Linked DNA regions of Homo sapiens: all the other regions are linked to region 3. The links come from fine-mapping of genetic effects on gene expression. A gene starts in region 3. Each other region holds a variant in brackets. All regions are shown on one strand. Distances are from middle to middle. Region 1 has its middle 28 kb from the start of SPATA31F3. Region 2 overlaps DNAJB5-DT (DNAJB5 divergent transcript). Region 3 holds the start of PHF24 (PHD finger protein 24). Region 4 has its middle 51 kb from the start of SPATA31F1.

What was found. PIP is the estimated chance that this variant, and not a neighbour inherited with it, causes the effect. A credible set is the group of variants that fine-mapping cannot tell apart.
Region 1: its variant is the best candidate, but not a certain one, in a credible set for the expression of PHF24 in whole blood (TOPMed, PIP 0.84).
Region 2: its variant is the best candidate, but not a certain one, in a credible set for the expression of PHF24 in whole blood (TOPMed, PIP 0.65).
Region 4: its variant is the best candidate, but not a certain one, in a credible set for the expression of PHF24 in whole blood (TOPMed, PIP 0.88).

What each region holds. Positions count from the first base shown.
Region 1 is chr9:34,920,395-34,928,078 of GRCh38, forward strand. It overlaps a transcript of PHF24 not described here and the pseudogene YWHAZP6. Among named protein-coding and RNA genes, the nearest start is that of SPATA31F3, 28 kb to the left of the region's middle. RefSeq lists enhancers at 5,884-6,405, 6,406-6,926. The variant T/C (reference allele first, on the strand shown) is at 3,712.
Region 2 is chr9:34,980,974-34,988,657 of GRCh38, forward strand. It overlaps DNAJB5-DT (DNAJB5 divergent transcript), which reads right to left. Exons shown (of 2, transcript NR_109756.1): 2 at 4,437-4,964. PHF24 (PHD finger protein 24) reads left to right here. Exons shown (of 8, transcript NM_015297.3): 8 at 1-1,571. Among named protein-coding and RNA genes, the nearest start is that of DNAJB5-DT, 4.6 kb to the right of the region's middle. The variant G/A (reference allele first, on the strand shown) is at 4,521.
Region 3 is chr9:34,955,012-34,962,695 of GRCh38, forward strand. It overlaps PHF24 (PHD finger protein 24), which reads left to right and starts at 3,274. Exons shown (of 8, transcript NM_015297.3): 1 at 3,274-3,390. RefSeq lists an enhancer at 1,833-1,972 and a silencer at 3,322-3,401.
Region 4 is chr9:34,777,030-34,784,713 of GRCh38, forward strand. It overlaps a transcript of PHF24 not described here. Among named protein-coding and RNA genes, the nearest start is that of SPATA31F1, 51 kb to the left of the region's middle. The variant G/T (reference allele first, on the strand shown) is at 2,911.

The DNA of each region.
Region 1 (7,684 bases), 35 kb before region 3:
CTCTTTTTGTTACTATAGTTCTGTGATTCCTGCAGTGTTGTGATTCCTCCAGTTTTGTTCTTTTTGCTCAGATGGCTTTAGTTATTCTGGGTCTTTTGTGGTTCCATATGAAATTTAAGATTATTTTTTCTATTTCTTTAAAGAATATCCTCAGTATTTTCATAGGGATTGCATTGAATCTGTAGATTGCTTTAGGAAATATGGACATTTTATCAATATTGATTTTTCCAATCTATGAATATGGAATATCTTTTTATTTTTTGTGTCCTCTTCAATTTCTTGCATCAATGTCAAATAGTTTTCATTATAGAGATTTTTCACTTCTTTGGTTAAGTTTGTTCCTAGATATTTTATTTTATTTGTAATAATGTAAATGGAATTGCTTCCTTGATTTATTTTTCAGATTGTTTGCTGTTAGCATATAGAAATGCTACTGATTTTTGTATGTTGATTTGTACTCTGCCACTTTACTGAATTTGTTTTTCAGTTCTAATAGTTTTGTAGTGAAATCTTTAGGTTTTTGCAAATACAAGATTATATCATCTGCAAACAAGAAAAATTTGACTTTTTCCTTTCTTTGGGTGCCCTTTCTTTCTGTTGTCTGATTGCTCTAGCTAGGAATTTCAGTACTGTGTTGAATAACAGTTAAAGTGAGCTTCCTTGTCTCGTTCCAGAACTTAGAAGAAAGGCTTTCAGTTTTTCCCTGTTCAATATGATTCTAGCTGTGGGTCTGTCATATATGCCTTTTATTTTGTTGAGGTATGTCTCATCTATACCCAGTTGTTTTTTTTTTCCATTCTTAAAACTTTTATTCCATTTACATGAATTTAATACACGTGTTCTTAACAATTATGTTTGAATTGTTCATGAAAATTTCATAAGACATTAAACAAAGGTAGCCATCATCTCAAGTTATTTCCGTGTTAACTATTTTTACAGCACATGCATGTTAGGCAAGTATCAAAAAAAAAAATCACAAAAGCAAAAAACCTAAAAAAAAAGTTAAATACATGGGTTTTTGTTTTACTGCTGTGCTTGATATACATGAAGTAATGAATACCAAGCAATTCATTTTCCCTGCATCTTTACTTTTACATTTGTTCTTAGGTTGCCTAAGACATTTAAATACAAATAAAATGAGTGTAGCAAAAATAATGAAAGCTAACAGCAGGTAACTTTACAAATAATGGAATGTGAACCGTTTCTGCCCTTATCCAGAGTAAAATGGGTCACAGCTTTGTCTAAAGGAACACTTCTGCAGCTATAGTCAAGGGTATGCACATTGAGATTGAGTGTTCCACAGATATACATGGTTTAACATGTGGTATCTGTGGGATATCTGTTTCTACCACAGCCTTGTAAGTGCTCCAAACCTTAAAATACCCACAATTACTACACCTGTGACTGGAACCAATGATCCCTTTTAGTCCCCACCAGGACAAACCAATATGTAGGCAGTTTTCTTTGCTTAGACATGGAAGCAGTTTTAACACTGGCCCTTGTAAAGCCACAATGTACCAAAAGTACTATGCCAAACATTAATAACTTGTATAAAAATTCCACATCCCCATATTGGCCACCTCAAGATGAAAACAGATAACTCCCTAAATGTTAACTGGCTCTACTCCCCTAATATTAAACATAAAAACCACGTGGGAAATATAGAAATTCAAATAGAAGTAACATAAACCTGTCATAAATTGTAAACAACTATTTGTGGGACAGCATGGATGACAAATGGTCTACTGTGTAAATTTTAGAACGAGGCAGACAAAAGTTGGAAGGCCGGTTAATTTTCCCCTCCTTCTCCTGCTTCAGCTTTGTCTCCTCGGGTATCCGATGTCCACAATGTCAAGTTGTCTCTCAGTAATTGCATTATTAGTGTGCTGTCTTTGGATGACTCTTCACTTAATGTATCAAGTTCAGCAATGGCTTCATCAAAAGCTGTCTTTGCAAGAGAGCAGGCTTTCTCTGGGGAATTCAGAACGTCATAATAGAACACGGAGAAGTTAAGGGCCAGACCCAGTCTGATAGGATATGTTGGTTGCATTTCCTTTTTGCTGATTTCAAAAGCTTCTTGGTGTGCTTGTTGTGACTGATCCACAGTCCCTTTCTTATCATCACCAGCGGCAACCTCAGCCAAGTAATGGTAGTGATCTCCTTTCATTTTCAAATAGAAGAATTTGCTCTCGCTTGTGAAGCACTGGGGATCAAGAACTTTTCCAAAAGGGACAGTACATCATTGCAGCTATCTCTTAGCTAGGTCTCAGTTTTCTCTCTGTATTCTTGAGCCATCTGCTGTTTTTTTCTCAGCACCTTCTGTCTTTTGTTCAATACTTGAGACGATGCTCCAAGATGACCTACGGGCTCCTACAACATTTTTATAAGCAACTGAGAGAAGATTCCTCTCCTCATTGGATAATTAAGCTCCTTGCTCAGTTACAGACTTCATGCAGGCTGCCATATCATCATACCACTCAGCCTGCTCGGCCAGTTTGGCCTTCTGAACCAGCTCATTTTTATCCATTACTGGATGTTCCAGCAGTGGTCTCACCTTGTGTCGGCATGGCCTCGCCCCAGTCTACCTGGGGGGTGCTGCTGGGCCGGGCCTGGGCTCCGGCCCGCCTAGACCCAGTTTTTTAAGTTTTGTTTTTGTTTTTTTTTTTTTTTTAATCATGAAGGGATGTTGAATTTTATCAAATGCTTTTTCAGCATCAATTGAAATGATCATATGATTTTTGTCCTTCATTCTGTTGATATGATGTATCACATTGATTAATTTGCATATGTTGAAACATCCTTGCATCCCTAGGATGAATCCCACTTGATCATGATCTTTTTAACTGTTATTGAATTTAGTGTGCTAGTATTTTGTTAAAGATTTTTTGCATCAATGTTCATCAGACATATTGGCCTGTAGTTTTCTTTTTCTGATGTATCTTTGTCTGGTTTTGGTATCAGGATAATACTGGCCTTGTATTTTTTGGAATAGTCTGAGTAGGATTGGTATTAGTCCTTCTTTAAATGTTTGGTAAAATTCAGCAGTGAAGCCATTGGGTCCAGGGCTTTTCTTTGCTGGGAGACTTTTATTATGGCTTTGATCTCATTACTTGTTATTGGCCTACTCAGGTTTTGGGTTTCTTCATGATATAATCTAGGTAGGTTGTATGTATGTAGGAATTTATCTGCTTCTTCTAGGTTTTTCAATTTATTGGCATAGAGTTGCTTATAGTAGTCTGTAATGATCCTCAGAATTTCTACATTATGAGTTGTAATCTCTTTTTCCATCTCTGATTTTGTTTAGGTCTTCCCTCTTTTTTCCTGGTTAGTCTAACTAAAGGTTTGTCCATTTTGTTTATCTTTTAAAAAAACAATTTTTCATTTCATTGATTTTTTATATTGTTTTCATTTTTATTTATTTCTGCTTTGATCTTTATTACTTTTTTCTTCTAATTTTGAGTTTGGTTTGCCCTTTTCTAGGTTTTTAGATGCATCATTAGTTTGTTTATTTGAAGTTTTTTTTACTTTTTTTGATGTAGGCACTTATTGCTATAAATTTTCCTCTTAGCACTGCTTTTAGATTATCCCATAGATTTTGGTATGTTGTTTCCATTATGGTTTGTTTTAAGAAAATTTGCAATTTCATTCTTAATCTCTCCATTGACCCACTAGTCATTCAAGAGCATATTGTTTAATTTCCATGTGCTTGTA[T/C]AGTTTTTTAAATTCCTTTTATTATTTCTAGTTTTATTCCATTTTGGTCATAGAAGATACTTGATATTATTTCAGTTTTCCTGAAATTTTTAAGACTTCTTTTGTGGCCTAATATATGGGCTGTCCTTGAGAATGTTCCATGTGCTGAGGAGAAGAATGTGTATTCTGCAGCCATTGGATGAAATGTTCTGTAAATTTTGATTAGGTCCTTTTGTTTCTTTGTTGATCTTCTGTCTAGATAAACCTGTCCAAGTCTGAAAGTGGGGTGTTGAAGTCTCCAGCTATTATTGTATAAGGGTCTATCTCTCTAGCTGTAATAATATTTGCTTTATATATCTGGGTACTCCAGTGTTGGCTGCATATACATTAATACTTGTTACATACCCTTGCTGAATTGACCCCTTTTTCAACATATAATATGACCGTTTGTGTTTCTTTTTATGGTTTTTGTCTTGAAATGTATTTTAGCTGATATTAGTATAGCTACTCCTGCTCTTTTTTGGTTTCCATTTGCATGGATTATCTTTTTCCATTCCTTTATTTTCAGTCTATTTGTGTCTTTATAGGTGAAGTGTGTTTCTTGTAGGCAGCAGATAGTTGGGTTTGGTTTTTTATCCATTCAGTCACTCCATGTCTTTTGATTGGAGAGTTTAGTCCATTTACATTCAATGTTGTTATTGATAAGTAAGGACTGCTGCCATTTTGTTATTTGTTTTCTGGTTGTTTTGTATATCTTTTGTTCCTTACCACCTCTCTTATTGTTTATTTTTGCAGTTGGGTGGTTTTCTGTAGTGCTAAGCTTTGATTCCTTTCTCTTTCTTCTTTGTATATTGGCTCTACCTGTGAGTTTTATAGTTTCACATGTTTTCTTGATAATGGTAATCATCTTTTCAATTCCAGATGTAGGACTCCCTTGAGCATGTCTTGTAAGGCCTAGTGGTAATGAATTCCTTTCATTTTTGCTTGTCTATGAAAGATTTTATTTCTCCCTCATTTCTGAATAATAGCTTTGCTGGCTATAATATTCTTGACTAGCAGGATTTTTTTATTTCAGTATTTTGAATATATCATCCCATTCACTCCTCACTCACCTGGCTTGTAAGGCTTCTGCTGAGAAATCCGCTGTTAGTGGGGCCCCTTATATGTGACTTGACATTTTTTATTGCTGTTTTTAGAATTATTTGTCTTTGGCTTTTTACAATTTGACTATAATGTTCCTCAGAGAGAACCTGTTTGGGTTGAATCTACTTGCAATTCTTTGAGCTTCCTGGACTTAAACGTCTATTTCTCTTCCAAGACATGGGAAGTTTTCTGCTATTATTTCATTAAATATATTTTCCTCATCTTTCCCCTTCTCTTCTACTTCAGGAACACCCATAATACAAATACTTGTTTGCTTTATAGTGTGCCAAAAATTTAGTAGGCTTTCTTCTTTCTTCTGCTTGGTCTAGTCTATTATTGAAGTTGTGGATTGTATTTTTAATTTCATTCATTGACTTTTTTAGCTCTAGGATTTCTGTTTGACTCTTTTGTATGATATCTATCTCTTGTTGAAGTTCTTATTCAAATTATCAATTGTTTTCCTGATTTCATTGAATTGTCTATCTGTATTTTTCTTGTATCTCAATCCATTTCCTTAAGGTTGTTATTTTGAATTCTTTTTTCTGGAATTTCATCTACTTCCTCAAGATTGGGGCCTGTTACTAGAGAATTGTCTTTTTCCTTTAGAGGTGACATGTTTTCTTGCTTTGTCATGATTGTGTGTTCCTATGTTGATTTATATGCCTTTGGTGGAAAAATCACCTCTTCCAATTTTATGGAGTAGGTTTCATAAGAAAAGACTTGTTTATATGAATGGGACCTGGGGTGTTGGTTCATGGGGTGTACTGGCCTTGGTTTTAGGAAGATACAGTAGTGTAATGTAACCTCCATGTAGTTTCTTCAGCCATTATCCACACTAGTGGCATTTGGCCATTTCTCAGTGGCCTAGTCTGAAATAATTTGTGGCAATGGTGGTGCAACTTTGCCAGGGCTGGGTTCACTGGCCTGTTTCTCAGGTCAGAGGCATGTGTGTGCATATGGTGAGTTGGCCAACTTGGGATCTGGCTCACTGGGGCTGGGGCCATGGGGCTATTACTCTGTCCAGGAGCATGAGTTATTTGGCCACCCTGGGGACATGCCTGCCAGAAGTGGCTCACAGAGCTGTTTCTCGAAGGCCTAGGACATGGGTGTAAGGCTGCTCAGCTGACCTGGAGGAATGCCCACCAGAGAGGCCAGCAGGGCTGTCTCTTAGGCCTGGTATATGGGTGCATAGCTGCTTGGCTGGCCTAGGGATACACCTGATGGGGTGATTCATGGGACATTTTCTCAGGCCCAGGACACAGCTGCACAACTGCTTGACTGGCCTGGGGGTGTTTCTGCAGTGGGTGGCCCACAGGGTTGTTTTGTAGGTCTGAGATGTAAGCACAGGGCTATTTGATTGGCCTGCAGGTATGCCCACCAGAGGTGGCCTGTGGGGCTGTTTTTGGGGCCTGAGACATGGGTGCACACCTGCTGTGTTGGCGTAGGAGACAGGTCTGGGGGCAGGCACAGGGTTGTTGCTCAGGCTCATGACACAGCTTCGTGGCTGCTCAGTTGACCTGGGGATACTTCTGCTGGAGATGGCCCACAGGGCTGTTTCTTAGGCCTGGTATGCAGGCACATGGCTTCCTGGCCAGCCCAGGGCATGTTCACTAGTGGTGGCCCACAGAGCTGTTTCTCAAGTCCTGGATGTGGGCTCTTGGCTGCTTAGCTGGTTTGGGGTCGTGCCTACCGGGGGCAGCCTGAAGGAGTATTTCCCAGGTCTTTATGGGAAATGCAGGGCCATTAGGCAGGCCAGGGGCATGTCTGCAGAGGCAGGGGTGCTGTGGGGCTGTTTCTCCGGTCCTGAGCATGGGAGCATAGCCACTCCACTGGCCTGGGTGCATATTAGCTACTAGGAGGCTCAGGGGCCTCTCTCTCTTGTGGGAGGGTGCAGAGCAGTTTGGCCAGCTCAAGGCAGGTTGGCCCTGGGCAGGACTGGCAGACTGTTCATCTGGCTGGAAGTGCAGTAAGCAGGGGTTTGTTTTCTTGCTGTGCAGGACCAGAGTCACAGCTGATCCTAGGCCCAAGCTCTGTGCAGCTGACGTATGGCATTCAGCCAACCGTGTGGTGTGGGCTTGGCATAATGAGGATGGAGCGCCCCAGTGCTGGAGATATGCAGTGGCTACCGGCCCCCAGAACAGGGTGTGCTTCAGAGTTTGCTCTTTTCTCAAGATGGCATTATGCTGCAGCAGCTTGGCCCACAGGGAGTGGGATGGGGGGAATGGGGAGTGCACACCTTGCTCTCCTAATCTGGAGCAATGTAGCTGCTTGCATACCCAGCAGCTCTTCAAACTGGGCTCAGGGCTTGGGAAGACCGTAGGATTCTTCTGTAATAAGGACTGTAGGTTTTTGCAGTGCCAGTGGGGGCTGGTGGAGATCTTGTGCTTACCTTTTCCCTGCAATAAGAAGTCCTTCCTGACTCTGGGCACATCCAATCCAGGTGGGGGAGACAGGGCTATAGAGGCCCAGTGCTTCCTCGCTGCCCTCCTGGATTTCTGATCACCACAGGTGCATCTCCACTCCCCCACCACACTCCACCACTCTCCCTTCCACACTCCAGTCAAACCTTAGTTTGTTTATTCATTGTGTTGGGCCTTTCTTGTGGGATAGATGAATACCAGGCATCTCTATCCAGCCATCTTGCCAATGTCACTATTGAAGGATTTTAAGCAGAGGTGTGACTTCATGAAACTTATGTTTTAAAACATTAATGAGTTGGGAGCTGGGGGGAGGTGGGGATAGTTAATGGATATAGAAAAATAGCTAGAATTAATAAGATCTACCTTTGGACCTGCCTGGCCAACATGGTGAAACCTTGCCTCTACTAAAAATACAAAAATTAGCCAGGCAT
Region 2 (7,684 bases), 26 kb after region 3:
AGCAGTGGCCCTGGCCACAAAACCACTCCAAGTCTGCTCCTTGGCTTCCTCTCCTGAGCCCAGCCTTCCCCAACAGAACACTTGAGCAAGGGCCCCTAGAGTATCCCAGGGATGGAGCAGTCCCCTCACTCTAGGTACTGATCTAACCTTCAAGTGCTCCTCTTCATTTGAGGACACCTACAGTAGAAACCATGAGGACATTGCCTCTTTCTGCCCTCAGCCCAAGTACCTGGGGCTAGCAGGGCAGATACCAGCCTTTCTGGTCCTGCTGCTCCCTATGGGATGTCACCCTGACCTTGCTTAAGTGGCCAAGTCTTAGGGTCCCCTTATTCCTGTCACCATTATGAAAAACACAGCATTAAACTGCCTGGGAAGAGGACACCTCCTTGGGGGAGTGAGCCCCAAGGTTATACCCAGGACTCATAGCCCAAAGCACAACCTCGGCCATTGCAGGTTTCACAGCTTCAGTCAGAGTGGTGCCAGGAAGCCCAAAAGCCAAGAGGGAAGGTCAGCAGAAGCTGCCTGGCAAGGCCCCAGGCCAGCCAGGCCCACCCCAGAGCCAAGAGAAACTTCAAGCAGGACTGAGAACTGGTAGCTGGCTCTAGTGATCCTGAAAGCATGTTCCCTTCAGACCAGCAGAGTGAAGACAGACAGATGTGTGGCCCTAAAAGGCAGAACAGTTTTGATGCCAGAACTTCAGGACTGTCACCACAGTCCCTTTTTACCCCTCCTCTATTTACAGTGAAATAAAATTCCTATTTTCTTTTTTTTTTTTTTTTAATTTTCCTTATTTCAAGCTCTTATCTGAAAAAATGCTACTTTCTCCTACCACTTAGTTTGAATTTGCCCAGGATATCTGTCTGGGCCCCTGGCTGCAACCCAGACAATGGCGAGATCTCCTGGAGTGGGGGATATTCACGCATCGTGCCTGTTCCTGACAGCTCAGCCCTGGTGTAGGGTGGGACTGGGCATTTTCTCTGCTGTTACTTTTCTGCTACCACTATTTTTGGCAACCTTGGAAAGAAAATAAACAGGTTACAGAATTTCGGCTAGCACTAAGGGAAAGCTTTTTCCTCTGGGCCACATGCCCCAGTGACCCAGAGCATGGAAAGGGGGTCAGCTCTGGTCTGGGCCAGTGACTAAGAAGCCCAATCACATTCCAGTTTCTATAGCACTGGGTAGGCACAACCCACAGTTAAGAACATCAAGTTATAAGTAGCCAGGCCTTTTCATAGCCATGGTGACACAAAGGCCCTCAAGATTAGCCTCCTGCCATCATGGGTTGGCCTGTGATCTGTCCCCCAGCCAAACCCAAGTTTGTGAGAGGGACTCTGAGAACACTTGAGCAACACTTGGGAATCCAATGCGCTCTGGTCCCTCATGCCCTTCCCATGTGCTTTTCTGCAGAAGGTAACTTGACAGCAAGCTGAGGGGAACGTCCCCAAGCCCTGTCTCCCTGTCTCTACAGCTGCATGCTCCTCTGCGTGGCCCAGCCTTCACAGCGCTCCAGAAGAAGCTGATGCCCTGAGGCTGGGCACAGTGGAAATCATAATAAAGCGATTGCGATGCTCTGTCGGCTTCCTGTTTCTTGTTGTTTGGGGAACCTGCCATTTCTGTGTGGTTTCCCATTGTTGATCAATTCCTGGGTCTGAGCATAAGACCGGGGCAGCTGCAGCTGCCAGGAAGGACACAACATGCTGTGACTCTTTCTAGAGTTCTCCTGGCCCTGACCTTCCCAAAAATCAAGAGATGGGTAGAGGTAGGGGCACCACACATACAGATACAGAGATACTGATATTTCTGTATCCAGCACAGATACAGAGCAGAAACAGGAGCACTGAAGTGGAGAGCCAGAGCTTTCAAAGAAATTGAGGATGAGGTCATAAGGTCTCCAAGGCTGTCTGCTCTGTGTTGTCCCTCTCCTGTGCCATGCCCCAGGGCCAGTTTTAGACACTTCCCAGTTCCTCCTGAGCTAAAAGTAAGGAAACTCATTGGCTGTTTTCTCCTGGTCTGAGTGTTTCCTCCCCATTTTGACAAATTGCTTTAATGTAATATGATAGGGTTGGGAAAGCTAAGATTGGAGATGCCATTTGGGGGACTATGGGATCCCCATTCCTCCCTTTTATCTGGTGAGAACAGAGTCAGTACCTGTAGGTGAGACAGCATCTCTAGGCTGTGGATCAAAGGCCGATACTCTACCTCCAAAACCAGAGAGGGTCCCAAGTACAAGTCGTCTTTAACATTTTTTGAGCACTTACTATGCACTTGGCAGTGCTTTGCATAGAGTCACTAATCTTCACAATAATCCTATGAGATTTTTATTACAGGTGAGAAAAATGAGGAACAGAGAGTCCATGTTTCTCAAGGTTACACAACCACACAGGAAGTAGGGGAACCAGGCAGTTTGCCTTCAGAGGACATGTTCTTAGCCACTTTGTTGTGCTTCCTGTCAAAGCACATCTCAAAGGAACCACTGCTGTGTGAGCCAGCACCTCCCCTCCCCACCCTGGGAATAGACACAGACAGGTAACCAGGCCTGTATCCATGGCACGGATTTCTTACCACTGCACAATTCACTCCATCCGCTCACCAGGCTCCCACACCTCTCCTCCCTGAATTCTTCCCATGGGGTCCACCAGACTGAGAGCAGATTAATGACATCCCACCAGCCCTTTGTCCTTGTCTCCAGGCTCAGTGAAGCTAAGCATTGGGACAGAAAAAGGGCATAAAAAGGCTGGGTGTCTGTGGGCCCGAATGAATAAGGTTTCCCTGCCCTCAGTTCAGCAGTCCTGGCTGGAACTTTAGACCCTCTGAGGACTGTTCCTCCCACCAACTGCCACTTGTTCCCAGGACTGGCCGGGGTCTTGGTTCTACACAAACCTCCACCCACCTTGTCCTGCTCTGGTTCAAATTCATTTCCTCTTTATCCCTGGGGAGAGTCATTCCTTAAGAGAATCAATGGCTGCTAAATTTGCTAAACATGGAGTAGTGCTCTCTCCCACCCCACCCTTTCTAAGGGTTGCTTGGAGGTTGACTTTGTTGAACCTCAGTTTCCTCGACTGTAAAATCTGTAGGACAGTCCCTGTCCTGTAAGCCTCCTGGGCTGGTTAATTGAGGAAAGAGTTTTGTATAAGAGGAGAGAGCTTTACAGATTGTAAGGCACTGAGTAAGTAGCAAGGATTTCTGCTCCATCTGAAGGCTGTGAGTGTATCATCTCCACACTCACACAGTCCCAGGCATAGCTGGGTCGGGGTGGGGTGGGTACTGTGATTGCCTCTGTCCAAAGTGCTGAAGTCATAGCCAAGCCAGCTGAGGACCTTCAGTCCCTCCTTGTCCCACCTTTGAGTAACCATCAAGTACAGAGATTTCCAAGCCCAAAGATTGTCCTAAAATTGAGAATGTATTGCCAACAAATTTATTTTATTTCAAGTATCTTTGTTTAAAATGAATACAGCTCTCCATTCAAAATTATAACACGTACACATGAACAAGAGGTGATTTAGCAGCTCAGGGAGAAAAGAGCTTATGGCCTTAACTCGGTATGGGTGAACAGTATGAGGTGGCTACCAAAAAATAAACTGATGGGCCAGGTGCGATGGCTCACGCCTGTAATCCCAGCACTTAGGGAGGCCGAAGCAGGTGGATCTCCTGAGGTCAGGAGTTCAAGACCAGCCTGGCCAACATGGCGAAACCCTGTCTCTACTAAAAATGCAAAAATTAGCCAGGTGTGGTGGTGCACACCTGTAGTTCCAGCTACTCAGGAGGCTGAGGCAGAAGAATTGCTTGAACCCAGGAGGCAAAGGTTGCAGTGAGCCGAGATCACACCATTGCACTCCAGCCTAGGCAACAGGGCGAGACTCCATCTCAAAAGAAAAACAAAACAACAACCACAGAAAAAACTGATGTAATCTGAGCCTATGTGGAAAGAAGTTCAGAGTCAGAGGAGGGAGGCAGGCCGGCTCATTCGTACCCTGCACCAGCTCTCCTGGAAAAAGCTAATCATAACTGGGCACCACAAACTGAAACCCATTCAGGGAAACATGATCTTAGTGAGTAGAATTGAGAAAGGCAGGGGATGAGTCCATGAAGGCATGGGTCCTGGAGAGAAGCAGATTTGAAGGATGCAGATGGTGATGTTTGGCAGATGGACCAATGAGGTCAGTGTGGTCCCAAGGACAGGGCTAAGATGAAATGTGAACACTGTGGAGAGGCAGATTTCTGCTCAATAGGACCAAACATAACTGGTTACCAGGAAGGCAGTGGAGCTGTATTAAGCATGTGACAGAAATGCTGATTTGGGGGTGGGGTGACTTCAGTCCTCTTGAGACCTGAGATGCCAGTAAACAGTTAAGCACATTCTGTGCATACCCAGTGCTGAGCCCAGGTGAGCCAGAAGGAGAAGATTCATGACTGTAAGAACCCACATAACCCCAAAGTTTTGGTGTCAAAAACGAGAACTTTAATTTTTTTAGCTCACAGGTGGGCTCTTGGACGCTTGCCTCTAGAACCTGATGTTGCAC[G/A]CCCTCTGCTGGTCATCCCTAACATTGCTCTCTCATCCCAAGGCAAGAAATCACCCCTCTGAACCCTTCTGGTGCTGGTCAGCATAGGTTCAGAACACGCAGGGAGACGCCAGCGAATATCAGGGAGTCAGATCCCTGGTAGTGTTCAGTTAGTTCAGTATAGGATCAGAACTGAATCTGAAGATGAATTCAAGTATTTTGTATCAAAATTAGGGCTCAGCCATGTCTAGGAGGAGGGTTTGGGCAGAGGCTGGATTCGGGGAACTGTCTCTACCAGGACAATAACCAGGTTGTGTCTCAGGCTGAGGTCAAAGTTGGGACTCAGTGTGGGACCAAAGTCTGGGCCTGAGTGTCAGCATGAAGCATGTATCAGGTGAGATGCTCAGAGTCTGATCACAGGAGGGAGGCCATCTGCAGCCAAGGTGATGGGTCAACGTGGCATTCCTACACCCAGGAGAAAGCATCAGGTAATGAGTACCCAGGCACTGGAGAACTCAAGAACAAACATGGAGACTGCCCAGGGGAGAGATATGAGGGACAGGGGACAGCAGGAGATAGTCACTCATTTCTTTTTTTTCTTTTCTTTTCTTTTCTTTTTTTTTTTTTTTTGACAGGGAGTCTCGTCTCACTCTGTCACCCAGGCTGGAGTGCAGTGGCGCGATCTCGGCTCACTGCAACCTCTGCCTTCTGGGTTCAAGCGATTCTTTTGCCTCAGCCTCCTGAGTAGCTGAGATTACAGGCATGTGCCACAACACCTGGCTAATTTTTTTTGTATTTTAGTAGAGATGGCAGGTAGTCACTAATTCGTAAGGCCCTCCCAACTTTAAGGATGGTGATGGGTAGGCCAAGTAGCCCCCTGTTCCTCAGTATTCTAGTATCCCAGTATTCTAGTTCTGGTTTCCTGTTAAAGCCCCCGCTCCTGCTCCCACACACACACTAGTACTACCACATACAACTCATAGGTACAACTGGGGGAGAGAAGTGGCCCAAGGGCCAGTTCTGTCACTGCAGGGAGGTGGCAGCTGTGAGGGTAGTCTTCCTTCCCCCCAGGATTCTCTGTTTCTACTGGCAACAGGGCCTGGCAGCCTCCCACACCCAGATCTTAGCAACCATGGGAACCCCTGGCAACCATTACCATGGTGACAAGACAGGGAACTGAAAACAGGCTGGGGGCACTTCCTCTGCAGCCTTCGGGATGTGAGCAGGATAGGGGCTCCCTTCCCTATACAGTCTGGGAGGGAACATGTGCCTCTGTCTAAAACACCTCCTCACTGGCACCCACCCCCACCCCTGCCCACGGGTTCCGGTTCCCTCAGGGTGAGGAAATGAGGGACACCTAGGGTTATGACGTCTCCAAGGGGAGGGAGGGTGAGTGGGGGCGTTTGGGACTGGCATGATCGCAGATGCGTGCATACGCTGGCAGACATGGTGTCAATGTGTCAGTGCCTATATACCTTATCCACTCTTTGTCATGTAGACACATGCCCGCACAGTCATTTACTCACACATGTACACTGACCCAAAATCATATACCTACAACATATAACAGAATCAGGCACACCACCACACAAAAATAACTGCACAGATCCACTCACAAATCACATTACCAGTACCACACTACAAATAACTCCCAGACTCACAGATTTATAGATGCACTCGCACTCCCAGCATCTGTGAACATGTAGAGTAATGGTTAACTTGGTTGAGTTAACCAAGTTAACCATTGGTTGGGTATAAACTACATGCCCAGCTCAGAACTAAGTGCACTACCTGTGTTACCTTAATTAACCCTCTCAACAACCCCCTGAGGCACCAATCCCCATTTACAAAGGAGATGAGGCATGAGTGTGGCGTGTAAGCTCACAAGGTGCATAGACTCCAGACCACACTGTCACAGTCCATGCCACACTGAGCACTACACACACGTGACACCCAGGACAATGGGACTGAGGGCGGGAACCGAGGACTAGGCAAACAGTGGAGTCTGTGCCACCAACACCTGAAGGCACAGTTCTGCACCCTCAAAGGTCCGAGCCTACACTTTAGCATTAGCAGGGGCCAGGTAAAGGCTGGTGACTAAACTCTCTGCCTCCGTGTTGGCACAGGCAAGGCTGGGGGAGGCAAAAGAGACAGAACTGGAATAGGAAGAAGTAGAGCCACCCACAGCCTGGGCCCCACAGGTGTGGAGGTGGAAGAGTGAGAGCCCCCAGATCTGAGGAGCCAGCAGCGGTGCAGGGCCCCTCACCCCACCTTACCCATCTCTGTGTCACACAGAGATGTCCATCCCTCCTCCCTCCCCTCCCCCTTCCTCACTCCTCCTCACCCCATCTCTGTGCCTCATCCTTTCATTACTCACCCCTTCTTTCCTCATCCCTCACCCTGCCTTCCTGCCCCTCCCCAGCCCTTCTTTCCTTATCCCCCACCCTGCCTTCCCTCCCCTCCCCAGCCCTCCTTTCCTCTGCCCTCCTTACTCCCACCCTATGGCTCATCTGCCCCATGCCCCTCCCCTCCTCATCCCCCTCACCCCATCTCACCATCCTCTCACCACCCCCTCTCCCTACCTCCCCCCCTCAACCCCATTTCCTCAAATTCCTCATGCTCATTTCCCCACATTCATCACCCATCTCTGCTCCCCTCCTGGCCCCCAACCCCACTTCCTTTCCATCCTCCTTTCACCCCAAGTCTCTTTCTTCCTTCACACCTCATGCCCCTTTACCCTTGGGAGCCCCATAGTGACTCCTGGCATGAAGGTAGGTAGTGAAGAATCTACAGACATGACTCCAGGACCCTGGCACCCCCCCCCCGCCTTGCTCTGCTCTTGGCCCAGGTACTCAAGCTGCAGTTTCTAGCAAGACCTCATGGGTGTCCAAACTCTGTCTCTGGAAAATAGGAAAGAAAGAAGTAAAGGGGAGCTTCCGGCCTGACCCTTCTATCATCATCAACCCCCCAGCACTCCCCTCCCCCACTTCACCCCCAAATTACTCCCTCCCCACCCCCGCTCCCTCGAGCACAGATGGGCCTGGGAGACAGTGACGTGGGCGCCAGGCACCGTGTCTGCTGGAGTGGCGGCTTCCGCTGGCGACCGCCTCCGCAGCCCCGCCTGCTCCCTGCATCGGGGACACTGGGGCTGAGATCTAATGACTTAATGGGGGGTGGGGGAGACT
Region 3 (7,684 bases):
TTTAACATAATTTTACACGACAGCACAGCTTCGCTGCTGGAGGTGAAAGATTGTTTCTTGCTATGTTGCCCAGGCTGGTCTCAAACTCCTGGGCTCAAGTGACCCTCTCACCTCGCTCTCATAAAGTGCAAGGATTACAGGTGTGAGCCACCATACCCAGCCAGAACAATATTCTCTACTTTCTAGACATTAACATGGTGGTAACCGTATTTGTCAATCTTATAAGCCCAAAAACTTATGGTCATAAATATCTGAACTCAGACCACCTCAGAATATTTTTGGCATATGTTTGCCATAGCCAAGAATATGCAAAAAAAAAAGAAAAGAAAGTTGAAAACAGTCCCTACCTTGTAAAGACAGTTAAGAGTGGTTGGTACAGGCTAGGGCCAGCCGCAAGTGGCTCACCTGTAATCCCAGCACTTTGGGAAGTCGAGGCAGGGAGATCACCTGAGATCAGGAGTTCAAGACCAGCCTGGCCAACATGGCGAAACCCCGTCTCTACCAAAAATCCAAAAATTAGCCAGGTGTGGTGGCACATGCCTGTAATCCTAGCTATTCGGGAGGCTGAAGCAGGAGAATCGCTTGAACCTGGGAGGCGGAGGTTGCAGTGAGCCGAGATCAAGCCACTGCACTCCAGCCTGGGCAACAGAATGAGACTCTGTCTCAAAAAAAAGAGTGGTACAGGCTGCTCTCTAGCAACCCTTTCACCTTGTCAGAGTCCCAGCTGCCCCCAGACCAACCTTATTCAATCCCACCTTGCTTTTTCTTTTGCTATTCCTTTGACCTTGAAAATCTTATCTTGTGCATAATTCTGTGTCCTCCACTTGCATAAACTACCTCCAAAAAGTTTGCACTTTCTAACCTCTCCATTCTCTGAACAATAACGTAGTAAAAGCTGTCTCTCCTCAACATGAGAAAAACTGCATGTAATTAAAAAATGAAATTGATAAATTTTGATATGACTTTTAATGTTTTAATACCAACAATAATTTAAATGGTCATTATGCATTCCTTAACCCAAGTACCTCCCTTCATAAAGTAATCTGTCTCTCCCACCTTGGAACTTCCATTGTATTTCATTCCTCTATTGCGCACACTGATTTTCTCTTTTGTATTATGATTATGGTTCTCTGTCAATGCTTGTCCTCTATGAGATTATAGTTCTTTGAGGGAAAGTACTGTGTCTTACTCTTATTTGCACCCTTTCTAGTTCTCAGCACAATGCCTGGCATTGTACAGATACACAATGTACTTTTGTGTGTGTGTGTGACGGAGTTTCGCTCTGTCACCCAGGCTGGAATGCAGTGGTGCGATCTTGGCTCACTGCAACCTCTGCCTCCTGGATTCAAGAGATTCTCCTGCCTCAGCCTCCCGAGTAGCTGGGACCACAGGCGCGTGCCACTGCACCTGGCTAATTGTTGTGTTTTTAGTAGAGGTGGGGTTTCACTATGTTGGCCAGGCTGGTCTCGACCTCAGGTGACTCACCTGCCTCGGCCTCCCAAAGTGCTGGAATTACAGGCGTGAGCCACCACGCCTGGCCACAATATAAATTTTTTTGAATGAAGGAAGGAATTAACCGACAGAGATTTATATGATGATGTTACAACCTCCTTTTCCATATAAGCCCATCAGACAGCCTAGAAATAAAACACTTACTAAAAACAGTTCAGAGAAGTCTATCTGTGAAACTGTCGGTATGATGTAATTCTAAAGAAAGTTAGGGGGGGACCCCCAGACTATATGGAAGGCTCAGTCTGCTTTTTAGTGCTAGTTTCACAACAAGCAAAATAACCATAGTGTCTCTTGAGAAATAAGCACTAATTTTAGAACTAATAAGTACTAATTTTAGAACTCCATATATTAATGGTTTATAGCCTCTCCTTTCTCAGTGGCAGGACTGAGAAATAGGAGCTTGCGGTATGAAATCAGAATACCTGAATTTCAGTCTCACCTCCATCACATATTAGCCATGTGACCTTGGGCGAGTTGTTTAACCTCTCTTTGCCTCAGTTTCATCACTGGCAAAATGTCGAAACTAACAGTAGACTCCCTCAAAGGGATGGTGTGAAAATTAATGACAACATATTTAAACCATTTAGAATAGTACCTGGCACTTCGTGTTTTAAAGTGATAGAAATATACCATACTTGCCTTATATCCTCTATTGGTAAATTCCATGTTAAGGGCAAAATTTCTTTTTTATATCGCACCAGGGTACCTAGCACAGTATGTAACAAATACTAGACGCTCAAAAAAATGACATGCATTATATTTGAGGTAAATAAATTGAATGCACAAGAAAATAAAGGTATTTTAAAAATGTAAGTGCAATTAATATAAATTAAAGGGCTCTCGACATATCATTTGCATATCTTCAATTTTTCCTTATAATTAGTTGCTGGCTATCTTACGATTTTATCTTTTTCTTGCCCTCTTCAAAGCATGTAGTTTGGTGTAATGCACATTATAGCCCTCAGAATTGCTGGCCTTCTGACAAGCTAGCTGTTTGGATATTGTGAGGGATGAGGTTGCTGCAGCAAAAAGTGGGTTACACGACAGCACAGCCTCGCTGCTGGAGATGAAAAACCAATAATCCCAGAAAACAGCGCATAGGGTAGGCTGGGCCAGCCGAGGATTATGTGAAGGTTCGTTGGGACCCTCCGGAGGCCAGTGGGGTACTGCAAAGGTGAGTGCCCCAGTGCCAGGGGTCGTGAGCCCGGAGCCCTGCGGGGGACGGCTGGTAGGCCCTGCTGGATGAGTCATTCTCCCCACCCCGGGCACGTGCTGGTGGCGGCATCCACCCGGACCCCGCCTTCCCCCCACCCAACCCCCGGCGCGGAACGCGAGCGGTGAGCGGCCCCAGCGCCCCCAAGGCGCCCCCTCCGGGCCGCCTCCTCCGGGCGGGCACTGTCCTTGCCGCAGTCGGCCGCTGGCGCAGTCCCCGCGCCGCAGTGCCGGGCGCTCGTGGGGGGCGCCCACGGGCACCTGGGCCGTCTGCTCATCGGAGCCGTCCGCCGTCCTCCCGCATTCCCACGGCGCCCCACGCCCGCGCGCCCGTCGCCGGTCACCCGCCGCCCGCGGAGCCGCGAGGGCGTCTCCTGGAGGCGCAAGAGGACTGGGCGGGGCGGGGCGCGCCCACCGGCCGGCCCAGGGCACCTCGCGCGGGTGCACACGCCGCAGCCCCCCGGGGCGGGTGGGTGTGCTCCGGCCGCGCGCGCCGCCGCCGCCGCCGCCGCCGCCGCCGCCTCCTCAGCCTGCCGCTCCGCCCGCGCCGCCTGCTGCCGGCGCTCGGCCCAGCACGCCGGCTCTCGGGCTGCCGTGGGCTGCGCGGGGCCCGCGGTGTGTAGAGTCCGCCGCCCCGGAGCCGCGTCCCGCACCCGGACGGTCCCGGTAAGCGGGGGCGGGGGCGGCGGGGACCGGGCCGTCACCTGAGGGGCGGGTCTGCGGCCGCGGACAGTCCTCCGGGACTCTGAGGTGCTTGTGTGGGAGCCGCCTCCAAGGTGGCCCCCCTGTGTCATTGGATGAACCCCAAGTAGCTGCTGCCTCTACGCCTTGGGGGAGTCCCTGAGGTGCTGTGGGGAGCCGCCCCCATAAAGACCCCCTGTGGGAATGGACTCCCGCGGCGCTGTCTGCATTTGCTGCCATAGGGAGCCCCAGCGTGGAGGGGACTGGCCCCAGAGAGCCCTTCTGTGTCACTGTGGGAGCAGGCACAAGGGTGGTCTCTGGAGCTGGCTCAATGGAAGACCACCTGGGAACATAGGGGAGCCGCAGGAACCTCGAGGTGGTGGAGCCCCCAGAGGGCTCCCTAGAAAAGGAGGACCTGAGACTGTGCCCTAGAACTGTGGGAAGCAACCTCTGACTGGGGAGGGGGATCCTCCCATGGGATCCATGAGTGACTTCCCACGGCTCCAAGGACTTTGGCCTCCACCGGGATCCCTGTAGGGTTCCATGTGCCCTTACTTGTATCCCCACACCGTGGCCCAGAGGTGGGGGCCTTCTAGGGCTGCAGCCTCTTTCCATTCCTCCTCTTTCCCCATTCGGATTTTTCTTCTCCATGGTAGCCCAGTTGCTCCACGCTGCATTTTAGTGGAGACAGAAACTGCTGCGAGAGCACAGGGCCCTAAGCCGAGGATGAGGACCAGTGAGGCCTCTAAAGCAAAGATAGGAGATTTGAGCCCCTAGGTTTGACCGTGCGGAAGGAAGCAGTAAGATCAGGTGGAATAACTGACTTTGGCAGGTCCTGGAGGGAAAGGCCTTTGAAGGAAGGAATAAAGGATGTATGGGATTGTTGAGCACCAGTACGCTAGGCAGTATACTAGGTATGTTTAAACATCTCATATAACTCTTACAACAGCTTTGTGAAATTATCCCCTTTTAAACATTGAGACTCAGAGAGGTTTAGCAATTTGCCCAAGGTCACAAAGCTGATGAAAAACATAATCATAAAATGTTTTTCAAATTTTATTTGGGAAAAAGTACTAAGGAGCAGCAGAAGAAAGAATAGATATTTGTTAATAAGTTGCATTAAGGTGCCTGCCGAGCATAGGGTTTTGCAGTGGTACAAGCTCAGTAAATGTGATGATTAAATAAGTGGATGAGGACAGTTTAACTGGCCATGAGATTGCTGCAGGAACTGATTTCCACAGAATCCCCAGATTTCAGGGTGTGGCTTCCTTCACTGGCAGTCCCACTGTCATGATGCCTTGGGGTGGCTCTGGACCTAATTGAGGCCTCTGGGTGTGGTTTTTGACAGGGCTTTCTCTGGGGATCTAGGGGGACCCTTCTGCGGATGGAGTGTCCCAAGACCACCCTACCTGCTACCGAATACTCGAAGGAGAGAAAGGAGAGACAGGATCACTTTTAGGAAGCACGATCCACACTGTCCTTGTGACCCTCTGACTACATGCACCGGTGGACAATGGTCCACAGATAGCACTCAGGACACTTTTGCCCAAGAGTGCCTCTGCATGAGGAGGAGGAGGACAGGAAAGGTGCAGAGCCAAGGAAGGCTCACTGGGAGTCTGTTAGGGGGAGCGCAAAGGGTCTGCGCCAGACATAGTGTTGCCTCCTCATCTCGCCCCCTCGTTGTTTTCATTCTAGCTGAATCCCAAGAGTTCAACTTTGAGCTCCAAGGATGGATTCTGGTTTCTTGTCCAAAAACGGAGTGGTGAGAGGGCCAAGCAATGATATTCATTAGAGCCATTCTGGAAGGGTTTTCCTGCTCCCCTTCCCTGCTTTCTTCCACACAGTCAAACCTAGTTAAATCCTCCTTGAACAGAAGTGGCTTCCTTTGGCTCCTGGAATTACATAGTGAGGAGAGAGACCAAGCTAGTGGGAAAACAGAACAACATAGTTTACCAGTTGTTAGATTTTTTTTCTTTTAACTCAGTGATGCTACCTTGCGCGCAACTCAGTGGAGTAAAGCCCGACAAAGGTTTTTGTTGGTTAGGACCTCCCCATTGTAAAGTTGTTTATAATCCCCCTTTCAGTTCAAACCCATCTGATCAGCTTAACAGATCAGAATAAATAGGTAGGCATATATTTAAAGAAAGTCAGAAGGACCAAACCTGAAGATATGATCTTTGTTCCAGATCATTGATTTGTCATTGAGGTTTTATTCCTAAATTGGTCTTTTGTTGAGGGTGCTTATTATCACACCCACTCATGACCCTGGAAAAATCACTAAATGGATCCAGGCTCTCCCCTAATCTTGGACCTTGGATATCAGCTTCCCCATGTCCAGCATTGGGTAAAATTAAGATTTCAAAAATCCTAAGAATACAGCCTAACTCTCCCTAGTCACAGCATGAGTCTGCAAATCAAATCATTCCAGAATGTGCACGAAAGATGTCACCAGGTGGCCTTAACCTTCTCAAAAATGCTCTCTCCAAAGGGAAATAAAAGGGGAGAGAACGGCTCACCCAGTTTCATTTGAGCTTACCCAAATGTGTCTGGATTTTACTGTCTGGATTTCTCAACCTTTGATCTTTCACATATTCTCCAATCTTCTAACATTGTCTTCTTCTAACATTTGCCATTCCTTTCCTTCAACATGGATAGTAAGACCTCCCCAGGCCCATTTCCCCGACTCCTTGCAATTTTTTCCACTACACCTGTTCCTAAGTGAATCACATTCATGCAAATAGTTTCCCTTCTCTTTAGCTACAGAATCTATTATCTTTTAGTCCCACACGCTTCTCTCCAGCAGTGCTGCTTGGCTTCTGCTATCTTCATGTCCCAAATTGATTTATTCATTTCTGATGGGAATATCATTATCCACTCCACCCCTCAATCTTAATGACCAAATTCTGACAGGAATTGCTTGCCAGCTTTGGACCAAGAAACCAAGACCATCAGTGTCCAGCTGAAGACATGATTATTTTTTCCATTAGCACATCCCCCTCCATTCTCCCCACTCTTCCAGCAATCCCCTCAGAGACTCACTTACATTTACTAAGTGCTACTTACTTGCCAGGCACTATGCTAGATAAATATGAGAGTTTCTTGCCCTTGAGGAGTTCACATAGAATCAGTCTGCATTTCTCTAATCATTCACTATAAAGAGTAGGAAAAGTAAGGGGGAAATTATGGCATTACAGAATATCCACAGGAACCAATATAGAGTATGCCTTTTCCCAAGCATCACTGAAACTCAGCTGCTGTGCTATGCCTCCTCTGGCAGCCACATTCAGCCCTCCTGCCAGTGCCCTGCCAAAATTACTTTTGCCCATATACTCTGAGTGTAAACTGACCACATTTTTGCCTTCCTTATGATAGTAATGACAGAACCTTTTATTTAGATAGCATGTTACAGTTTATGAAGCCCTTTTAGATATATGTTGGCTGTTTGGTTTTGAGAAATGCTTCATCTTACTGGGGTCCTCTCACTGAAGCAGAGCTGTGTGGGCTAATTGGCTCTCTCTCTTTTTGTATGTTTGTTTTTTTGAGGCTTAGGAGTCTCCCAGAGGGAAAGCCCCAGTGATTCACTACAGTCACCACCTACGAGCTCTTAGGTTGCGAAGGAGTTTCCTGTTGGGTCCTAAGGCCAAACAATGCACTCACTGGTCAGCGCTGGAACTTATCAGGGCAGTCCCTCTTCCTGGCCTCAGCAAATCCAATTCTCTGGGATTTTCTTCCTCCTTGAAACTCAAATACATATTCTAACAAATATTTTAAGCATACTATCTCAAACCAGTTCTTTGGGCTGATGCTAATTCTTATGTGAAGACACGTTTCCTTGCCTATTTCTATCTAGCCCCCAGGCTGGCTTCATACCATCTAAGTCATGATGGAGTCCCCATATAGCTCCATGCCTTGGCATGTGCTGTTACCTCTTCCTGGAATGCTTTTTTTTTTTTTCCTTATCCACTGATGTAACTCCTACTCATATTCAAAATTTAGCTCAAGCAACACCTTTTTTTTTTCAATCCTACACTTATGCCCCCTGCACACGCACATACTCACTGCATTCTCACAGGCTGAATGAGCTTCCATTTGTTCATTCTACCATCAGTTATTAAGCACCTGATTTGTGCCTGACGCATAGTAGGCTGTACTCGGCGAAAGTTTGCAGAATCAACAGAGAAGTAAATGGTGATAATTAAGGTGTAATAATTGCATTACATGGGGCTGAATCTGTGTTTCAGGGAACCAGAGCAGAAAACAGGGAGTGCCTCTCCATCTT
Region 4 (7,684 bases), 180 kb before region 3:
TATTAGAGGAGGCAGTGAAGATTTTCTGGGGATGGGGATGCCAGGTAAGGCAGTCTTTGGGCCCCATTGGTGGCAGCAGTAGCTGAGTGTGTCTGTTCTTGGGCCCCAGGGTGGTATATGCTTGTACTGGTTTTAGGGGGTCCAGGTGGGCTGATTCTTGGGCCTCTATGTGTCTTACTCAGATGTCAGTAGTGGCAGCAGTAGGCTGGGTGGGTGGGGAGGTTCTCAGGACCCTGGGAAGCCAGCATGGTGAGGGTGATGGCAGTGGTGGGATGACTCTCTGGGCCCTGGTTGGTGTGTGCTGGCATTGGTAGTGAATGTGATGGTCTGGGCAGGCCAGTCTCTAGGCCCACAGGTAGCCTGGGAGGAATGTTCAGATGCCAATGGTGGTGGATTGGGCTGGGAGATCCCTTAGCCCCCAGATTGTGGCTAGGGCGAGGGCAGTGAAGTTGGGCAATGGCCGTACTGATACCCTACTACTAGGGAGGGTGGTGCTGCCCTCAGTGGTGGCAGCCTAGGCCAGTGGGTGGAAAATGCATGCCTCTCACATTTCAATTCTGGTGGTACTTGTGCCTCAGCCCTTGCTGCAGTAGCAAAGTAGTGCTTTGCTCATGCCTCAGTCCCAATGGAAGTATCTCAGCCCTCAGCCTGGGATGTGGTAGCCCATGGTAGCTGGTGCCTAATTCCTGGGGACAGAAGCCCATGCTTCTCTAGTGCCTCAGACCCAGCGCTGCTGAGCTCCAGGACAGTGTACTGTCTTTTGAGGGTGAGGCAATTTTCTGTAGCTGTTTAGGTCTCAGGGACCCAATGTTAGCTCCCTCCCTGGAGCAGTGTCATTTCACAATCTCCTGTCAGCTTCCTACTTTAGTTTTAGGGCCCACAAGGGTCATGGGACTCTCCAGTGGCTAGGATTGCAGAAGTCTGTGGTGGTAATGTGGATTGCTGAGGGTCTCTCACTTACCCTTTCCCCACATTGGTTTCTAGCTAATTCTGGCCAATCGGGCTGCCATGCTTTGTTTTTCTTCCTTGCTTTAGGTATTACCTGTCACTTTTCTATTGGATTCCAGTGTTCTCTCTTGGATGATCTATTCAAAGTGTGATTATCTACTCACTATTTTGGTTCTTCTTAGTGGATAAGGTGTGAAATGTCTCTCATCAGCCACAGTAAGGAGGAACAGAAGAATAAGAAAGACATGAGACACGTACAAAACAAAAAGCGTAATGGCAGACATAAATCTAACCATATCAATAATAACATAAAAGTAAATAGATTAAATAATTCAATCAAAAGGCAGAAATTGTCAGATTGGGTTACAAAAATGAGATCCTGCCTCATGATGTCTAAGGGAGATGTATTATAGACAAAGGTACAAATAGGTTGAAATAAAAGGATAGCATAAGGTGTACCATGCAACTAGCAACCATAGGAGAGCTACAGTGGGTTATACTGGTCTCAGACAAAATAGACTTTAAGACAAAAATGCCATTAGGTATAATGGACATTTTCATAATGATAAAAGGGTCAATCCCTCAGGAAGATGTAACACATATAAATGTATGCGTATTTATACAGAGTCCCAAAATACATGAAGAAAAACTAACAGAACTGAAGGGAGAAATAGACATTTCAACAATAACTGTTAAAGACATCACCTACTTTGAATAATGGATAGAAAAGCTAGAGATAAAATTAACAAGGATACAGAAGACATAAACAACATTATAAATCAACTAGACCTAAGAGACATCTATAGAATACCCCACCCAACAGCAGCAGAATACACATTCTTTCCCAGTGCACCTGGAACAGTCTCCAGGAAAGACCATTTGCTAGGTCATAAAAAAAGTCTCAATAAATTAAAGTGATCAAAATCACAGAAAATATATTCTCTGATTACAATGGAATGACATTAGAGATCAATATCAGAAGGAAATTTGGAAAATTCACAAACATGTAGATTAAACAACATACTGCTAAATAAACAGTGAGTTAAAGTAAAATCATAAGGGAAATTACAAAATACTTTGAGGTAAAGATAACTACCAAAACGTATGGAAAGCAGCAAAAGCAGTGCTGAAAGGGAGTTATAGTGATAAACATCTATATTAAAAGAGAAAAAAGATCTCAAATCCATAATTTTCCACCCTGTGAAACTGGAAAAAGAAGAGCAAACTAAATTCAAGGCAAGCAGAAGGAAGAAAATAATAAAGATTAGAGCAGCAAGAAATGAAAGAGAAAATAAAAGAATAGAGAAAAATCAACAAACTCAAAACTTGGTTCTTTGAAATGATTAAATTAGTAATTAAGAAGCTTCCTGCAAAGAAAATCTATGTTTTCTTTAACTTTCCTATGTGTTTCTACGTTGAGGATCAGAAGACTTAATATTGTTAAGACGGCAATGCTCCCTATATTAATCTACATATTCAACACAATCCTTATCAAAATTTCAGTTGAATTTGTTGGAGAAATTGACAGGCTAATCCTAAAATTTAGATGAAATTTTAAGAGACCCCCTAATGGCCAAAACAATCTTGAAAAAGAAGAACAAAGTTGGAGGAATCACACTTCACAATTTCAATACTTACTACAATTCTACAGAAATCAAAATATTGTTTTACTGGCATAGTAGACATATAGACAAATGGGAGAGAATTGAGAGCCCACAACTAAACTCTCACATATATGGTCAATTGTTTTGTTTTGTTTTGTTTTGAGATGGAGTTTCACTCTTGTCGCCCAGGCTGGAGTGCAATGGCGCGATCTTGGCTCACTGCAACTTTTACCTCCTAAGTTCAAGCGATTCTCCTGCCTCAGCTTCCTGAGTAGCTGGGAGTACAGGCGCCTGCCAACACGCCCCGCTAATTTTTGTATTTTTAGTAGAGATGGGGTTTCACCATGTTGGTCAGGCT[G/T]GTCTCGAACTTCTGACCTCAGGTGATCCACCTGCCTCAGCCTCCCAAAGTGCTGAGATTACAGGCGTGAGCCACTGTGCCCAGCTGGTCAGTTGATTTTTGATGAGGGCCCCAAGACCACTCAAGGACAGTCTTTCAACACATAGTTCTGGGAAAACTGGATCTCCATAGGCAAAAGAATGAAGTTGGACCCTTACCTTACACGCTGTACAAAAAGTAACTCAAAATGGATCAAAAACCTAAATTTAAAAGCTAAAACTATAAAACTCTTAGAAGAAAATATGGGGAGAAATCTTTATAGCCTTAGATTTGGCAATGTTTTCTTTTCTTTTCTCTTCTTTCTTTTTTTTCTTTTTTTCTTTTTTTTTTTTTTTTTTGAGACAGTCTTACTCTGTTGCCCAGGCTGGAGTGCAGTGGTGTGATCATGGCTCACTGCAGCCTCCACCTCCTGGGCTCAAGTGATCTTCCCGCCTCAGCCTCCCGAGTACAGGAGCACACCACCACACCCAGTTAATTTTTGTATTTTGTAGAGAAGGGGTTTCACCATGTTGCCCAGGCTGGTTTTGAACTCCTGGGCTCAAGCAATCTGCCTGCTTCAGCCTCCCAAAGTGTTGGGATTATAAGCGTGAGCCACTGCACCTAGCTGGCAATAGTTTCTTAAATATTACACCAAAAGCACAATAAACGAAGAAAAATAGGTAAATTTGATGTCATAAAAATAACATTTTGTGCATCAAAGGACAGCATCAAGGGAGTGAAAATCATTTGACAAAAGCCCAGCATTCAGAACATATAAATAAATCCTACAACTCAACTACAATGGCAAAATAAACCCCAACTTTTAAAATGGGCAAAGGATTTGGATAGACATTTTTCCAAAGAAGATATACAAATGGCCAGCAAGCACATGAAAAGATGCTCAACATCATCATTAGTCATTAGGGAGATGCAAATCAAAACCACAGTAAGGTACCCCTTTCACAATGAGATACCACTATCACATATACTAGAATGTCTATAATAAAACAACAACAGAAATTAACAATTATTAATGAGGATGTGGAGAAACTAGAACCTTTGCGCATTGCCAGTGGGAATGTAAAATAGTGCTGCTGCTGCTGTGTAAAGCAGTTTGGCAATTTTTCTGAAAGTTAAACATTGAATTACTATATTCCACTCCTAGGTAAATACCCAAACTAACCGAAAACAGGAATTCAAACAGATATTTGTGCATAAATGTTTATAACAGCATAATTCAACAATAACCAGAAGATAGAAACACCCCAAGGTCCATTAACAGATGAATAAGTAAACAACATGTGGTATATAGATATAATAAAATATCCAATCATAAAAAATGAAGTTCTGAACCTTGAAAATATTACACTAAGTGAAATAAGTCAAACAAAAAGGACAAATATTATATGATTTCATTTGAATGAGGGACCTGTAATAGGCAAATTCATAGAGACAGAAAGTAGAATAGATAACCTAATGGTTTGGAGGCAAGGAGAGCGGGGAATTATTGCTTAAAGGAAACAGAGTTTTTGTTTGGGTTGGTGAAAAAGTCTTGGAAATAGATAATGTGACGGTTGTACAACATTGTGAATGTAACTAACATTACCGAATTATACATTTAAAAATGGTTAAAATGGCACATTTTATGTTATCTATCATCACCACAACTTAAAATAATGAATAATAGAGCAAAACCCCTTGAATTGTACACTTTAAATGGCTGAAGTTATGGTATGTGGATTATATCTCAGTAAGGCTGTTAGGGAAAAAAAAAAAAGCATTGTAGGAAGTAGTTGGGAAATGTGTTAGTTCAACCCCATCATTTTCTGTAGGGGGAGAAAGCAGCAACAATGCATGTGCCAGTGAATTCCACTCTTGCAATCAATAGGTTGGTAAGTACAGCAGTTATCTGCAAAACTCTGTATTATTTCTATTATTAATGTGACATTTCCCAGGCACAGTAAGAATAGAAGGGCTGAAATTACATTCATTGTCCCCACATGGGAGAGAAGAACCTCCTGAAATCATGGGTTCTAGGCAAAAATGTCCAAATCTCCACCCATAATGGGACAGGAAGCAGGGTACATGAGCTAGCTCTGGAATGTGAGATTCTTTCCTGAAGAAGGAGGAATGATGAAACTGAGGGAGTAAATGAAGTCCTCCAACTTGCACGAGAGCTGGGTTACAAAACTCACTGAAGTGCTCAGTGGATAATTATTAGTGGAGATCACAGAGGCAGTTAGCAAATCAGTGGATGGTCACATGTCAGAGGCCTGAAAAATGAGAGCAAGACTCAGTGATTTTGGGGTAAGTAGGGTAGAGGAGGGACAGGGGAGGATTTCTCAGCAATTTCGTATAATAATAACCACTCGTGGTTTGTTTTCTGGTAGACACACATCTCTCAACAATTCATTAGTTCACTCCATCCACAGCTCCTCTATTCTCTAGCAGTTTGCCTCCCTCACCCCACCAAATCCCATACCCCGCTTATGAAAAGTTGAGGATTATTTCTTGGACTGATTCAAGGTCACAGAGATATTTGAATGCCATATGGCTAAAAATACAGATCCAATCTGCCTTCCAGTCCAGTGACTCATCCTGTCACTAGAGGTAGAGAGCAAGAGCATGAAGTGGAAGTACTAGACTTCCAACAGCGATATAGACTACTCCAATCCCTGAGGCAGAGGTAAGGGTCTGACTTAGAGAGGCATTTATGAATTCATGGGAAGTAGCTCTTCTTCCATGTTTGGAAGAGCTTCTCAAACATGCCAAGTCTTATGCAAAACAAACTTGAGAAAGCTCCACACCCAACCTACTGTTTGATTGGGAGAGGCCTACATAGCAGTGGTAGGGTTTGGGGATGGGGTAGGATGAGGGATGGATCCCTGCTCCAAACCTATATCTTTAAGCTAGTCTGACTTATCCAAGCACCAGGCATCAGAAAAGCCTCAAATACTTGAACTCCAATCCCAGAAAACATCCATCTAAGCCCTTCCTGATTTAGCTGCAAACTGTGTTCATCTAGGTTGCGTTTTGTTTCTGACCTGTTTCTGACCTATCTCTTTTCTTATTTGTAGCATTGCTCTTGCCTCCAGAATTCCCAATTGATCCTCATTTTTCAGCTTGACTCTCAGCTTTGCTTAAGAATTCTGTTTAAATTCACTTTGGATCTTCCTGCTCCTTGCTGCCCCATCCCAGTTCAGTCCTTAGAACTTAAATCCTGACAGTGATATACTTGGCTGATGCTTCAACCAGGACCACCAGGTTTAGTCATAAGCGTGAAAGGAAGCAAGTTACACTGCGCCATCTTATCCACATGGATTTCATGAAAGGGCCCGATAACTTATTAAAATCCATCCTCTCTTCTCCGGACTCTTAATATTGAGAACTGAAACCATTTACTCCTACACAGCTTACTATCTACGTTAACATGACTTTAATTTCAATTGTCTTCACATCCCAAGACTTTGTGCTCCTGGCTTCAAAACGACCTCTTTTCTTTTTTCACCAATCCTAATATTCTATCATAGCCCTTACCCTATCCTAATTAAGCCCTCTCTATTGCACTCACCCCTGCTCTGACAGACCTGCCTTAAACTAGACTTCAAAATCTGAATAAATCAAATCTTGTTCATTCTCCTCCAAGAAACTACCATATTATGTCTCCCTTATCACTGTAAGAAATAAAATAATCTTTTTCTTATCAATAAGTTGTTCTGGTAATATTTAGGGACTTGGAATTTGATCAGTTTCCTGATATTATTTCCTACAGATTACAGAAAATGTAATACTGCATTGGGAGGGCAGTGACTTAATAACCTCAAGCTTCCCTTATAAAGAATATCAAATAAAGTGAATAGCGGTTTCTGGAATACAACCTGAACTCCAGTTTAACTTTTTAATTGATGTATAATGTTGCCTTTCCTGTTCTAGCCCATTTGTAATTTTTAGGTATCATTAAAACTTTTCTTAGACCAGTAAAACTCTCCATCTACTTGCTGAAATTTCTGCTCTATATTTTTTAGCATAGACTTTGAGATAGTTTTTAAACACTGCCTCCAAGAAGCCAGCAGCTAGTGGGTTTGACAGCTATTTCCTCTGTGCTCGAGTCAGTGCCAGAGTAGCTTCTGTAGGTAATCTCCCTGCATGGCTGGCTGGCAATATCATTTTGATATAAGATATTCTCTAAGGAAGAGTTTCCATAAATAGGCTTGCTGCTAGAGCTGGTGGAGGCGTCTTGCCTAGTAATTAAGTTTTCTTGTACAAGGAGTTATATGGTTTTGTATGTGCACAAGTGAAAGTGCATAAGACATGCGTGGGCAGGTATGCTTTCAACTTGTTAGTGATGTTCTCAACTAGGAGTTCATGCTTCAGGGAGTAGGAAATGATTGCTTATTCTACCATTTCAGAATTTGCATAATATATCTGGGGAAAATATTTTTAAATGTACTATGACCTTTTTATCTTGTAAGGAGTGAAGGAAATCCTTATCCTATTCCAATTTGAATTATGTTCAGCCTCAAACGGTACCATAAGATGGTATGGTAGGTGCAGGGAGACAGCACTGTTAACACATAGTTCACATGCATAGTCTGAAAGTGTCTGTTTTCTGACCTTTAATTTTCCATGACCAGGACAGTATTATACACAGCTATTTCTTAACATAAACTTATCTGACGATTTCCACTGTCCTGCTTTTGTGCTCCAGATCTTTAACAGGTGGCAAAGAAGACAAATATGATGAGACCACATGAAT